Homo sapiens: one gene and its partners. The protein of the gene in region 2 purifies or fractionates together with the protein of the main gene of each other region. This does not show direct contact. Each region holds a gene or a part of one and is shown on either strand. Other genes may lie near its edges.

Region 1 (4,134 bases), on a different chromosome or scaffold from region 2:
AGTTGAACCTGGGAGTTGGAGGTTACAGTGAGCCAAGATCGCGCCACTGCACTCCAGCCTGGACGACAGAGTGAGACTCAGTCTCCAAAAAAATAAATAAATAAATAAATAATTTTCCTTGTTCGAGTTACTAGTGTTGTTTCCATGTCCTGTCTGGACCCTGATGGATACATAGTTCCTGCTTATGGTCTGGTGGGACGCAGCAGTAAAGGATCCAAAGCACATTATAATCTATGAAGCTCTGCAAAACTTCAGGAATTATTAGTGTAGGGAAAAGAAAGAGCGATCAGATTATTACTGTGTCTGTGTAGAAAGAAGTAGACATAGGAGACTCCATTTTGTTCTGTACTACGAAAAATTCTTCTGCCTTGAGATGCTGTTAAACTATAACCTTACTCCCAACCCCGAGCTCTCTGAAACATGTGCTGTGTCCACTCAGGGTTAAATGGATTAAGGGCTGTGCAAGATGTGCTTTGTTACAGATGCATGAAGGCAGCATGCTCCTTAAGAGTCATCACCACTCCCTAATCTCAAGTACCCAGGGACACAAACACTGCGGAAGGCCGCAGGGACCTCTGCCTAGGAAAGCCAGGTATTCTCCAAGGTTTCTCCCCATGTGATAGTCTGAAATATGGCCTCGTGGGAAGGGAAAGACCTGACCGTCCCCCAGCCCGACACCCGTAAAGGGTCTGTGCTGAGGAGGATTAGTGCAAGAGGAAGGAACGCCTCTTTGCAGTTGAGACAAGAGGAAGGCAGGCATCTGTCTCCTGCCCGTCCCTGGGCAACGGAATGTCTCGGTATAAAACCCGATTCTATGTCCCATCTACTAAGATAGGGAAAACCGCCTTAGGGCTGGAAGGGGGACAGGCGGGCAGCAATACTGCTCTTTAAGACATTGAGATGTTTATGTGTATGCATATCTAAAGCACAGCACTTAATTCTTTACCTTGTTCATGATGCAGAGACCTTTGTTCACGTGTTTATCTGCTGACCTTCTCTCCACTATTATCCTATGACCCTGCCACATCCCCCTCTCCGAGAAACACCCAAGAATGATCATAAATACTAAGGGAACTCAGAGGCCGACGGGATCCTCCGTATGCCGAACGCTGGTCCCCTGGGCCCCCCTACTTCTTTCTCTATACTTTGTTTGTGTCTTTTTCTTTTCCAAGTCTCTCGTTCCACCTAACGAGAAACACCCACAGGTGTGGAGGGGCAACCCACCCCTTCAATTAGTAATGGCCTGCCCGAACTTCCCATCCCACCTCTGCTCCAGAGTCTGAAAATCCTACCATTAGAGAGCTATCTCTTTTGGGTGTTTCCTGTAACAACGCAAATGTCTCCAGAAAAGGCAACAATGACAAACCCTGGCCTCTGATGAAGGCCTGTTTGGCTCAGGGTTAACTAAAAGGAAAACTCAGATGTCCCATTCCTTGATCTATCCTAAATATAGTGAGAAGCACTAAATTTAACCCTGAAGGCAGCCTGCTAAATAGTTATAGAATCTGAAGGGAAACTAAAACAGGAAATAAAAGCTGGGATTATTCTGGGGCAAACAGATATTTTGAGCTGTTATCAGAACAGCAGATAAATCCACTAAACGTCTCCCCTCCATTTCCCAGCGTTAAGCCATTCTCCCTCCTCAGCTTCCCAAGTAGTTTGGGACTAAAGGGGCGTGCCACCACACCGGGCTAATTTTGTATTTTTTAGTACAGACAAGGTGTCGCCATGTTGCCCAGGCTGGTCTCCAACTCTTGACTCGTGAACTCAAGCGATCCTCGTGCCTCAGCTTCCCAAACTGTTGGGATTACAGGCGTGAGCCACGTGCCGGGCCATGTCTGTGCTTCCGAGGGTGGGAAAGATAAAGCTCACCATGGCTACGCTGATGGCTTCCTCTCCTACACATCTCACCCACAAGGGCGGGGTCCTCAACTAAGCTTAGGACTGCCTATCATTCTGCAAATGACCCACTCTACAGACATGCTGCAGCAGGGAAACCCCGCCACTGGGCAGTTCCTCATGCTGAGGAGGAGACGCCCGTCACTCCATCTCATCTGTAAAGTGAAGACTTTTAAGGCTGCCCTAATATTCATCATAATCTAACAACGAAGACCTTACCAAGGGGCGGAAAAAAAGAATAAAATACTGTGAGCGAAGGAAACAACAAAGGAATAACATTTAAAGCAATGTGCCAGGTCCTTCACACATTAACATCATTGTGTGAGGTATCATTAACATCATTTTACAAATAAAGAAACAGGGGACTTGCAGGGGGAAAGCTGCACAAAGTCACTGAACAAAGTAAGTGACACAGCAAGAATCCAAGTCAAAATCTGGAGCTGGAAAGTGAGTGGGGAGACGAAGAACCGCCTGGGCACCTTTGTGCAGGGCGGGGCTGGAGGAGGTCACGCAACTTGAAAACACCCAAGGGAGTTGGATCCTACCACCGCGGCCCACACCGTGGAGAAATACACGTCCATCAGCCTCTGTCAAGCAGGACGCGGCGGGTGCCGGCGCGGCCGGGTGGCCTGGTGCTTTCTGGGCCTCGCCCGCCACCCCGGAAGCCTGGAATCCCGGGAGTGCGCCCGGCCGCCCGGCCACGCGATCCCGGACCCACGCGGACGCCCGCCTCAGGGAAGGCCGCGCACGGCGGGGACGCGGGGCGGAGGGGCTGAGCCGGCCGAGCCACCGCCGGCGCCGCTCCAAAGCCTCCCCCGCGGCCCGAACTCGAGCTGCAGCGCGCGGCCGCGCCACTTACAGGTCATGACTCTGCAGACAAGCACCACCTGCGGCGCGGACTGAGCGCTGGAGATCCGGCGGACCGCGGCGTCGCTACGGTGGGGCGGGGACCGCGTCAGAGGCCCCGCCCCACCCCTCCTCCTGGCCCCGGCCGGGAGGAGAGAAGGGTCTGCGTTCATTCCAGTGCGCCTGTAACACCAGGACGGACCAACGAGAAATGGTTAATTGCAACACAGTCCGGAAAAAGCATGCCTCGAAAGGCAAAGGGCAAAAGGGAACGGCCTAAGTCGAGGTGGTGTGCTGGTGAATGTCTTAACAACCAGACTTTTCAGGGAGGAAAGCCCTGATTTGTAGCGTTTGCTGATTCTCCGCAAAAGGACTGAACTTCTAGCTGGTTGAATCACCTCTGTGGCCAGGTTAACACCGTATGCTGATGGGCTTGAGCTATTTGAACAAGTCTCTGTGACGGGGACGGAATGACCCTGGTTGGTTTAGGCACGCGAGACGTCTGTAAAATCTGACTACAAGGCTGCTAGGCCAACGGGAAAGATGCTGAGGGTTCAACGCCATGCCCTCAACAAGTCAGTCCTCGAATACATTGTCATCTCTTTGCTAATATCCTTTTTTGTTTGTTTGTTTTAGACAGGGTCTCACTCTGTCATCCAGTCAGGAGTGCAGTGCAGCAGTCTCAGCCCATTGCAGCCTCAACCTCCCGGCTCAAGCGATCCTCCGTCCTCAGCCTCCCAAGTAGCTGGGACTACAGGCACACACCACCACACCTAGCTATTTCTTTTCCTTTTTTCTTTTTCTTTCTTTCTTTCTTTTTTTTTTTTTTTTAAGTTTTTTACTTTTAATAGAGGTGGGGCCTTGCTATTTTGCCCAGGCTGGTCTCAAACTCCTGAGCTCAAGACCCTACTGCCTTAGCCTCCCAAAGTGCTGGAATTATAGGCGTGAGCTGCTGCGCCCAGCCTATAGACTATGATTTTTGCATTTTTATTTATTAGATTGCTTTTTAATTTTCGTGTTTTGTGTTTTTGTGCCTTGTCAGACTTGTGGAACAAAAATCCAAAACTTAACCACCTTTTGGAATGCCCCAGAATAGTTTATACTGAAACAGATCTTGGTTTGTAAAAGAACACTATAAAAACATTTTGGGGGCAACTAGGGAGATTTAAATATGAACGAGATATTTGATGCTTTTCTGAATTATTTTGTGTGCTATAGTGTTGTGCTTGTGACAATTCTTTACTCTTAGAAAATGAGGAAGTATTAGGGATGAACCATCAGAATGTTTGACTTGAAAATCGTCAGCAAAAAGAAAACACATAAGATAAAGCAAATATGGCAAAATGTTAATTATTAAATCTAGGAGGAGGACACAGCTGTTCATGGTAC
Region 2 (3,500 bases):
GTGTGGTCACCATCCTCAGTCCTTGCCTGCCACCTCACACTGGCCTCCAGGACCCCCTTCCTCTGCGTCCTCCTCCCTCCCTAGCTGCTCCTTCTTAGTCTCCTCACACCGGTGGGCTCCCCACAGTCTCCCTCCTGAGGGGACCTCCTGCAGTCCCAGAGCCTCAGATAACTTCAACTACCCATAGCTCCCTTACCTTCCACAACCAGGCCAGACCTCTCCTGACCTCCACACTCAGCAACCCAGCAGCCTCCCTGCAGCTCCACCCTACAGGCACCTAAAGCCAGCTCCACCTACAGTCCCCCTGTCTCAGTTGAGGGCCATTCTCCCACTGCTTGGCCTAAAGAAACCCTGTATAATCCTCGAACCCTCTCTCTCCCACACGTCACGTGTCCAATTCATCAGCAAACATGGCCGGAACCTGACACCTCCTCACCACAAGCCCCTATTACCACCATTCCTCCCCGGGTCCCTGCAGCAGCCTCCCGACAGGCTTCGCTGCTTGGCCTTGCACCCTTCACTCCATTCTCGGCACCACAGCCAGGGATTCTGCACAGCCTCCTCTGCTCAGGGCCCTCCACTGGCTTCCTCTTTTGCTCAGGATAAATACCCAGCTCCGGGAAGTCATCAGCAGGGCCCTCTCCCCTCTCTGCCCTCACCTCCCACTCCTCTTGCTCACTCCACCTGCTCCACATGGTCCCCCTTCACTGTTCTCAGTCGTGCTGGGAGCCCCAGGCAGGCCTCTGCCCCTGCATCTCCCTTTAGGTTTTTAAATCAAATGTCACGACCTCAGTGGGGACTGGCCCAAGCACCTCCCGGTGGACCCTACCATCACTCCCTACCTGTTTCCAGCTTGATTTTCCTCTACAGGATTTCCCATCTGATACAGATTTTATTTCATTGTTGTTTACTGTCTGTCTCCCCAAATGAGAAAGTGCAGCCCATGGAACACACTCTGCAGTGCCCTGCCCCCCACCGTGGCCCCACACCTGCTCCACCACCTGACAGACTGACCCATGCGGGAGCGCGATTTACATCTGTTGAATGAATGAGTAAATGAATGGCACCCAGTTTTATTGTTATGACTGTTTCTTATGCCAGGCTTTGGAAAACACTGGATTGGGTGCTCCCGAAGGACCCTCCCAACTCTGACGTTCCACATTCCCACGTACAAAGACACCAGGTTTCTACACCGGTAGAACCTCCAGAACTGGATGTTTGCCAGAACTCAGGAAACCCTCTGACAGTGTCTTTTAAATTCCCACCAGGGGGCTCTTTTGAGGAGGCGAAAGCCCCACGCAGGGAGGAACGACCAAGTGTTCCCATAGCTTTGTTTCCCCACAATCCCCTGACTGCCCTCATCTAACTGGCCTCTGAGGGACCCCAGCCTGCCTTACCTGCTACCAGGTGGGCCCGGCTCCGGGAGCACAGAACCGCATTGAACTTGGACTCGTCTGTTCCCAGGCGGTTCTCCCCGGCCGCATACAGCTCCTGGAGAGAGAGGAAGACGCACATGTGGCACAGGCCACACCCAGACCCCAGGCCCAGGTCACCCAGGAGAGCCTGGTAAACTTCTGAAGGTTTGAGCCTAAAGTATTTGCCAATTTGCAACCTCTGAACTAGATGGCCTCTAAAGTGCCTGCTAGGCCTCAGGTAGCAGCCCTGAAAAAGAGCAGAAAGCAGCAATCAGGGGCTGAGATCCCACAGGTCAAGATGAGGCCAAAGCAGCTCTGGACTGAGAAGGCAGAGCATGAGACAATTTTTGCCCCGCTAAAAGTGGCATGCAAAACTCTCGCTGGAGCAAAAGCCAGAGCCCTGAGCCCCAGGCGTGTCCAGCCCTGACTCCCAGAATGGGAATGGATGTTACCAGCCAGAGAGACACTGAATAAGGCAGACCCTGCAGGAGCAGCAGGTCTGAGACCAGGGCAGAGGCAAGTGCTGACTGGGCACAGAAGACCGAGCCAGGAGTATAGGCCCTTGTCCGGGCTCTGCTTCTAGCTTTCAGTTGGGAACAGTGCTCAACCTTTTTGAGCCTCAGTTTCCTCCTCCGGAAAAGGAGGACCAGCAAAAGGACCAGACCAGAGGAGTAGCTCTCCTCCAGCCCTAACAAGGGGGCATTCCTTGAGGTCTCATTCCAATCCCGCAGATGGTAGAGATAATTTAGACCACTGGCAGCTCCTGGTGAATGCCCTGCCGTGGATGACAAGAGCAGTGAAGGGAGACAGAGAGGTATGGCCAACTCCACCCCACCAGGAAGTAATGGCTCTGCCCTGCCATAATACTACGGTTGAAATTCATTAGTGGGAAACCCAAACTTTTCGAGAGAGTAGCTCAGATGCCTGGACTTTGCTTGGACTTTTCCCCTTTTGTCTGCAACTCACAAGAGGGACAACGACAGAATTCTAAGGGTGCTCAACTAATGTGGCAGCTGGTTTCTAGGCTCAAATCCTCAAAAACTTAATAAGCAAGTGCAAATTTTGCCCCTTTGCAAACATAATGCTATGTGCAACTAAACATGGGGAAAGTACGCTGTCACACAAAATCCCACGTCCAAAACCATGATCTATCAACTATCGAAATACTAATTATCTCACATGTTCCCTCCTATAGGTGGGGAAGCTGAAGCCCTGGAGGTCAGATTACCTGTTCTAGGTCATACAGTTGAACAGTTCAGCGCGTCTGAAACTCACAGCATCTGCAACCCACTGCTTATCTATTGTTCTTTCCACCCTAGGGTACCTCTCTCAGGAAGCAAGAAAGCGGGGTGCATCCCTGCTTTAGGAAGTCCAGGGGCTTGGCCATCACACTCACCTGGGCATCTCTCTGGGCGAGTGACATGTCCACGTTTGTGCTTTCATCACGGTTTCCCTGAAAGGAAGCAGGTGTATGGTCATGCCCACTCCTTCCCCATTTATTTTCCCTTTCCTCATTGCGGGGATCCCATCTCTTTGACTTCCATGGCTTGGGGGCCCCGAGCCCTGTCGTGGGAAAAGTACCTGAGAGAGAGAGATGAGGAGCCGCTGGAAGTGCCCTGATGTGTCGCTTCGAATGGCCTCTTCCAGGGTCTTTTTGAATTCTGAAAGGGAGAAGCAAGGAAGGTCCATCCTGTAGCTCTCTTTATGGAGCTGCCCATTGCAAAACACTATCAAAAGTGGGTACTGGGGAGAAAAAGGCTGGAGGTCTTGGCTCGGGCTCAAGAGAACAAATAGCCCATATGGCCCTCCAGGGATATACAAGCCTGTGACCTCCAGGCTGACCTGGCCTCTAGTCAGCCTTGGCCCAAACCACATCCAGGTTTTCCCTGCCTCTCCCTTACATTAGTCATTTGCACCATGTATAAACAGAAGGAAGGGCTGGGTCTTGGGTCAAAGCCCAAAGTATTGGGGGTGGCAGAAGATGGGTTGATAAGAAGGCCAGGAAGGAGTAAAAGGCCCTAGGAGAGAATGAGGCCACAGCCCCAAGAGCACAGGGATCTGCAGAGGGCAGAGGGCAGAGGGCAG
Region 3 (2,560 bases), about 44 Mb from region 2:
GAGACGGAGTCTCACTCTGCCGCCCAGGCTGGAGTGCAGCGGCGCAATCTCAGCTCACTGCAAGCTCCACCTCCCAGGTTCAAGCGATTCTCCTGCCTCAGCCTCCTGAGTAGCTGGGACTACAGGCACCCACCACCTCGCCTGGCTATTTTTTTGTATTTTTAGTAGAGATGGGGTTTCACTGTGTTAGCCAGGATGGTCTCGATCTCCTAACCTCGTGATCCACCCGTCTCGGCCTCCCAAAGTGCTGGGATTACAGGCATAAGACACCGCGCCCGGCCCCTCAGGTGATTCTTTAAGTGCAGCCAAGGTTGGGAGGTTGGAATCGTTGCTTTAAAAGGAAGAGTTATCACAAGAAAATCCAGCAAGGAACACCTAAGGGTTACAAAGGATGTACTAAAACATCAAACACCCAATTAAGTGACAGCCAGCATTATTTTTATTATTGACCCCATAACTGTCATTCATATCATTATTTCTGCTGCTCCTATAACCTCTACTGACACAAAGCATCAAAGTGAGGGAGGGAAGGATAGCAAAGAGGACACTTTCAAGTCCAGACTCACCAACAAAAAAACTTGAACTCTCTAAATACTGCATGACTAATTTAAGGCAGAAAAATAAGTGTCTTAAAGGAACAAGGGTCAAATTGGTTAAATGTGCCTTCATTTAGAAAAGAGCTATATTTTTTATACTCTTAATATAATTATAAATCAGACAATAATCTGTCTAAAAGGTTTGGTCATTATGTCAGTCAGCAGTTTCAAACAGAACATCCCAACACCCAATTAAAATACCAAGTGTGGCCAGGAGCAGTGGCTCATGCCTGTCATCTCAGCACTTTCAGAGGCTGAGGCAGGCGGATCACGAGGTCAGGAGATCGAGACCACCCTGGCCAACATGGTGAAACCCCATCTCTACCAAAAATACAAAAATTAGCTGGGCGTGTTGGCACGTGCCTGTAATACCAGCTACTCGGGAGGCTGAGGCAGGAGAATCGCTTGAACCGGGGCATCGGAAGTTGCAGTCAGCCAAAATGGCGCCATTGCACTCCAGCCTGGCAACAGAGCAAGACTCCATCTTAAAAAAAAAAAAAAAAAAAAAGTGTGGCCGGGCGCGGTGGGCTCACGCCTATAATCCCAACACTTTGGGAGGCCAACGCAGGTGGATCACGAGGTCAGGAGTTTGAGATCAGCCTGGCCAACATTATGAAACCCCATCTCTATTAAAAATATAAAGATTAGCTGGGCGTGGTGACAGGCGCCTGTAATCCCAGCTACTCAGGAGGCTGAGGCAGAGAATTGCTTGAACCCAGGAGGCAGAGTGCAGTGAGCCAAGATTGCGCCACGGCACTGCAGCCTAGGAGACAGAGCAAGACTCCGTCTCGAAAAATAAATAAATTAATTAAATTAAATACCAAGTGTATTTTAGGTCTTCCTTAAAAAATTATCTTGAGTAAATGTTTTATCTCCATACCTTTGGTTTCTTTAATGACAATAGCGTTTAATAATCCTTTTCCTCTTACGGCAGTTACAACATCAGAAGGTAGCTTCATGAGTTCATTTCTCAAGATAATGCCCAATTTGTCTGCATTTTCAGCAAGGTTTTCTTCTTCTAAAACCTACGTTTAAAGAAAAATTATACAAATATTAAGACTGTCCTTTTTTTGTTTTTTGGAGGACAACGGGGACTGTAAACACAGGAAAAACATGACTAGATAAAATACCAGAGGAACTTAACTTTCATTGCTATTTTTCAAAGCCTGTATTAGTTTCTAATTAAACATACACTAGCTCAGAGTCTTGCTTTCATCACAAATCTATTGCCAATCATTCATGGCAAAATAAGGATTAAAGTTTATTTAATGCAACTCACATACTGTCATTAATTGAATACATCAATGGACGAAATGTAATTCCTAAACTGCAATAGTTTCTTCCCCCCTCACAAAGATCTGTCCTCAGAGATTACATAATAATTGTATACCTTCAGCAGGCACTTAAAAAATCAGTCTGAAAACATTATAAATCCACACTTGAAAGAAGACTTGCTTGCTAAGCAAAAAGACGGGTCTGGTAGGTGGGTCACAGTTGAGAGTTCTATGAGGGCCAGCCAGGGCCGAAGAACTCAAAGCGCCAGGTGACTGTGAACTCAGGAAGCCCACGGAGGAAATCCAGTCTACTAGGCCAAGTTTAAATTACTTTTTGAGAATATCTTGTTCCTAAAATTTTTCCTCTATACTTCATGTTTTCTAATATTTGGCATTCTTATTGAATTTTTTATTATACCAGTGGGCCCAAATTAAAAATCACTTCAACATTGCTTTAAAGAATAGACACTGTGTGGCTGTATCAGTCTTTACCTCAAGGGCTGCGATGGCCACTCGGCAGCCTAGTGGATTGCCACCGTATGTGGACCCATGCTCCCCTGGCTTAATGGTCAGCATGATGTCATCATCACACAGCACTGCAGACACCTGAAAGACAGTCAATTCACCATGTCATTTCTCAGCACTAAGCATTCTACTAAGCATCCTTTTCCCCAGAGTCTCGCTGTCACC
Region 4 (3,500 bases), on a different chromosome or scaffold from region 2:
AATTATAAATTATTCAACCCAAAACTGAAGGGGGCCTGCCCCTCCACACCTGTGGGTATTTCTCGTCAAGTGGGAAGAGAGACTGAGAAAATAAATAAGACACAAAGTATAGAGAAAGAACAGTGGGCCCAGAGGACGGGCACACTCAGTATGCGAGGACCTGCACCGGCACTGGTATCTGAGTTCCCTCAGTATTTATTGATTACTTTTCACTATCTCGGCAAGGGAACTGCGGTGGGAGAACAGGGTGATGGTGGGGAGAAGGTCAGCAGGAAAACATGTGAGTAAAGAAATCTGCGTCATAAATAAGTTCAAGGGAAGGTACTGTGCCCAGATGTGTAAGTAGGCTAGATTCATGTTTCTCTTTACCCAAACATCTCAGTGTAGCAAAGAGTAACAGAGCAGTATTGCTGCCAGCATATCTCCCCTCCAGCCACAGGGTGGTTTTCTCCTATCTCAGAATAGAACGAATAGTCGGCTTTACACGGAGACATTCTGTTCCCAGGGATATGCGGGAAACAGAGGCCTTCCTCTTTTACTAATCCTTCTCAGCACAGACCCTTTATGGGTGTCAGGCTGGGGGACGGTTAGGTCTTTCCCTTCCCACGAGGCCATATCTCAGGCTGTCTCAGTGGGGGGAATTCTTGGACAATACCCACGCTTTCTTGGGCAGAGGTCCCTGCAGCTTTCTGCAGTGCATCATGTCCCTGGTTAATAGAGAATGGAGAATGGCGATGACTTTTACCAAGCATACAGTCTGCAAACATATTGTTAACAAGGCACATCCTGCACAGCCCTAAATCCCTTAAACCTTGATTCAATACAGCACATGTTTCTGTAAGCACAGGGTTGGGGCTAAAGTTACAGATTAACAGCATCTCAAAGCAAAACAATTTTTCTTTGTGCAGATCAAAACGGAGTTTCTTTTGTCTTCCTTTTCCACATAGACACAGTAACAGTCTGAGCTCTCTTTTCCCCACACAAAACTATGTTTAAAATAATTTAAGTATGATTATATAAGATTTGGGGGCCGGGTGCAGTGGCTCACGCCTGTAATCCTAGCACTTTGGGAGGCCGAGGCAAGTGGATTGCTTGAGCTCAGGAGTTTGAGACCAACCTGGGCAACATGGTGAAACCCCGTCTCTACTAAAATACAAAAAATTAGCCGGGCATGATGGCACATGCCTGTAATCCCAGCTACTGGGGAGGATGAGACAGGAGAATTTCTTGAACCTGGGAGGCGGAGGTTGCAGTGAGCCGAGATCATGCCATTGCACTCCAGCCTGGGTGACACAGCGAGACTCCGTCTCAAAAATTTGGGACCGTTAATAAACAGTTATATATATTTGGGAGATTAGATTACATGTATTAAATCAAGAACAATAAAAGCTGGTATTTGATAAAGTACTAAAGTAAATATAACATCCTAAATGTTTGCAATAGAATGATTATAGAGGATATGTTGTTGGAAAGTACCAGAACTAGAAACCCAGTTTCTAAGCAACCTGTGAATCTTTGGAAAATTAGAAAAAAAAATTTGGAAGAATATTTCAAATGGCTGAAGATCACCGTTCCACTTGCTAAATAGGCATGTTAAGGGCAGAGGCCACTCAGATTAATGAAGTGTTCTATTAACAGTTTTAACGAGAACTCCTGCAGTACTCTTAGAAACACCCTTAAGAGTCTTGTCTGTGTTCCCTGTTGTGATTGGCTTGGAGTAGGATACCTGTCTACCTCATATTACTTATATTTTTCCCTGTCTTCATTTTATCTCCCTCTGGTTGCATACTTCATCACTGAACACTTAAGGTAAGATACTAATCTCTGTGTATGTGCACTTATTTGTTACAAAGTATACTTGGCATATATTTTATTTTTTAGTTGCAATGATAGAAAAGCATATATTTAAATATCAAATTATAATTGGATAGATTATCAGAATTGAACATTAAATCTATTTACCAAGAAAGTATGTTTATTTGTAAATGAAAATAAAAATTTGAATTTCAAAGGCTAATCATTCCATAAAAGTTTCCATTTCTATTCGTAATTTAAATTTTATTTTGAAAAAGTGATAGTCTAAGGAACTCATTTAATTTTTGGCCTAAATGTGAAATATAGAATAAAAAACACACATATCTATTACAGAAATACTTGAGATCCTATATGTACTATACAAATCCTATATGTACTGTTATCTACAACCATTTGAACACTTATCCATAAACCCCTAATAAGTACCTTTTGCTTCAAGACCTATATTCCTTAGACCCACCATTAGAAAATTGGATGTTCACTCCAGCTATATGATATTTAAAAAAAAAATGAATCAGCTGGGAGCAGTGGCTCACACTTGTAATCCCAGCATTTTGGGAGGCAGAGGATGGCTTGAGGCCAGGAATTCAAGACCAGCCTGGGCAACATAGTAACACCTTGTTTCTATTAAAAAATTAGTTTTAAATTTTAAATTACAATAAAATAAAGTGTAAGTATTAAAAGGCCACTTGTCTATTTCTCACTTGGAATATTAAATGCTGGAAGCTGTGTTTGCCTGTTTATGAAGATAGAAACCTAAATGCCCTTTTGTTCTGTTTATATGTTTGAATGCTCAATGTTCATTTCCAGAACAGAAACTGTTCATACTTGGTGCGCTGTGGACTCTTGTGATAATTAACCAAGAGTAGCTCTATTTGTCCAACCTCACACCTAAAGAAGAAAGAAAATGGCTTGTGCTGAGTTTTCTTTTCATGTACCAAGTCTTGAAGAGCTTGCTGGAGGTAAAAACAATATTAACTTTGGATTTTTAAAAATTATCCCAAGAGAAAATTCTTTTAAAAAGATTCTAAGATCTATCTATATCTTACTACTTATGTATATCTATATCTTACTTATCAAAATAATACTTTTGGTACAGAATTCATTTTCCATTTCAGTATCTGTTCTGTCCCATTTTTATTGAGAAAGTCCAAATTCTGTCTAAAAAAACTAAAATTATAATTTATAAATTCTTTTTTCTTTCACTTATAGATTATTGATGATACCAACTTTACAAGATGTAAATGATTAGTAATCCAAGACTTAAGCATGTGTGATGCCCAAAGAGTCGCAAAATTTTGCTTTAACTTTTTTCACTTACATTATTCTTTAAATGTATACTCTACTGTTGTATGTTAATCATATTCCCAATATAATTCCCCCCCACCACTGATAATGACAGACTGCCAGTGAACTTGCTTTGATTTAAGGCAGTTTCCCAAGATAAATTAGGAGGGAAGATAGTCAAAAAAAGGAAAACAAAAACGAGTACAAAAATGAAGCCAGGAATAGTTGTTATCCAAAACTGTAAAGTCTGTCAGAATACTAACCTTTATTTAACAACCTCTAGGTTCTGTTCTAATGGTAACTATAGAACCTTCGCTTGTTTCTCAAAATGTGATGTTCTGGTAGTTCATTTGTCATCCTGATAAGATTGAAGTTAAGAAATAGACTCATTTTTGCTT

The links. Proteins that work in one complex are often made in the same cells at the same time.
Region 1: the proteins of ANXA11 (region 2) and NIT2 fractionate together in Homo sapiens (co-fractionation; one large-scale study listed by BioGRID). This does not show direct contact.
Region 3: the proteins of ANXA11 (region 2) and OAT purify together in Homo sapiens (affinity purification with mass spectrometry; one large-scale study listed by BioGRID and IntAct). This does not show direct contact.
Region 4: the proteins of ANXA11 (region 2) and C11orf54 fractionate together in Homo sapiens (co-fractionation; one large-scale study listed by BioGRID). This does not show direct contact.

The regions. Positions count from the first base shown.
Region 1 is NC_000003.12:100,333,423-100,337,556, reverse strand, and holds the start of NIT2 (omega-amidase NIT2), read right to left. Parts: upstream 2,801-4,134; 5' UTR 2,766-2,800; coding exon 2,759-2,765; intron 1-2,758. UniProt on the Homo sapiens protein: Has omega-amidase activity. The role of omega-amidase is to remove potentially toxic intermediates by converting 2-oxoglutaramate and 2-oxosuccinamate to biologically useful 2-oxoglutarate and oxaloacetate, respectively.
Region 2 is NC_000010.11:80,160,538-80,164,037, forward strand, and holds part of ANXA11 (annexin A11), read right to left. Parts: intron 3,077-3,500; coding exon 2,997-3,076; intron 2,869-2,996; coding exon 2,812-2,868; intron 1,492-2,811; coding exon 1,398-1,491; intron 1-1,397. UniProt on the Homo sapiens protein: Binds specifically to calcyclin in a calcium-dependent manner. Required for midbody formation and completion of the terminal phase of cytokinesis.
Region 3 is NC_000010.11:124,399,364-124,401,923, forward strand, and holds part of OAT (ornithine aminotransferase, mitochondrial isoform 1 precursor), read right to left. Parts: intron 2,477-2,560; coding exon 2,363-2,476; intron 1,622-2,362; coding exon 1,477-1,621; intron 1-1,476. UniProt on the Homo sapiens protein: Catalyzes the reversible interconversion of L-ornithine and 2-oxoglutarate to L-glutamate semialdehyde and L-glutamate.
Region 4 is NC_000011.10:93,744,672-93,748,171, forward strand, and holds part of C11orf54 (ester hydrolase C11orf54), read left to right. Parts: exon of another isoform or gene 1-1,809; intron 1,810-2,625; 5' UTR 2,626-2,722; coding exon 2,723-2,777; intron 2,778-3,500. UniProt on the Homo sapiens protein: Exhibits ester hydrolase activity on the substrate p-nitrophenyl acetate, in vitro. Regulates DNA damage and repair by regulating HIF1A degradation via chaperone-mediated autophagy (CMA).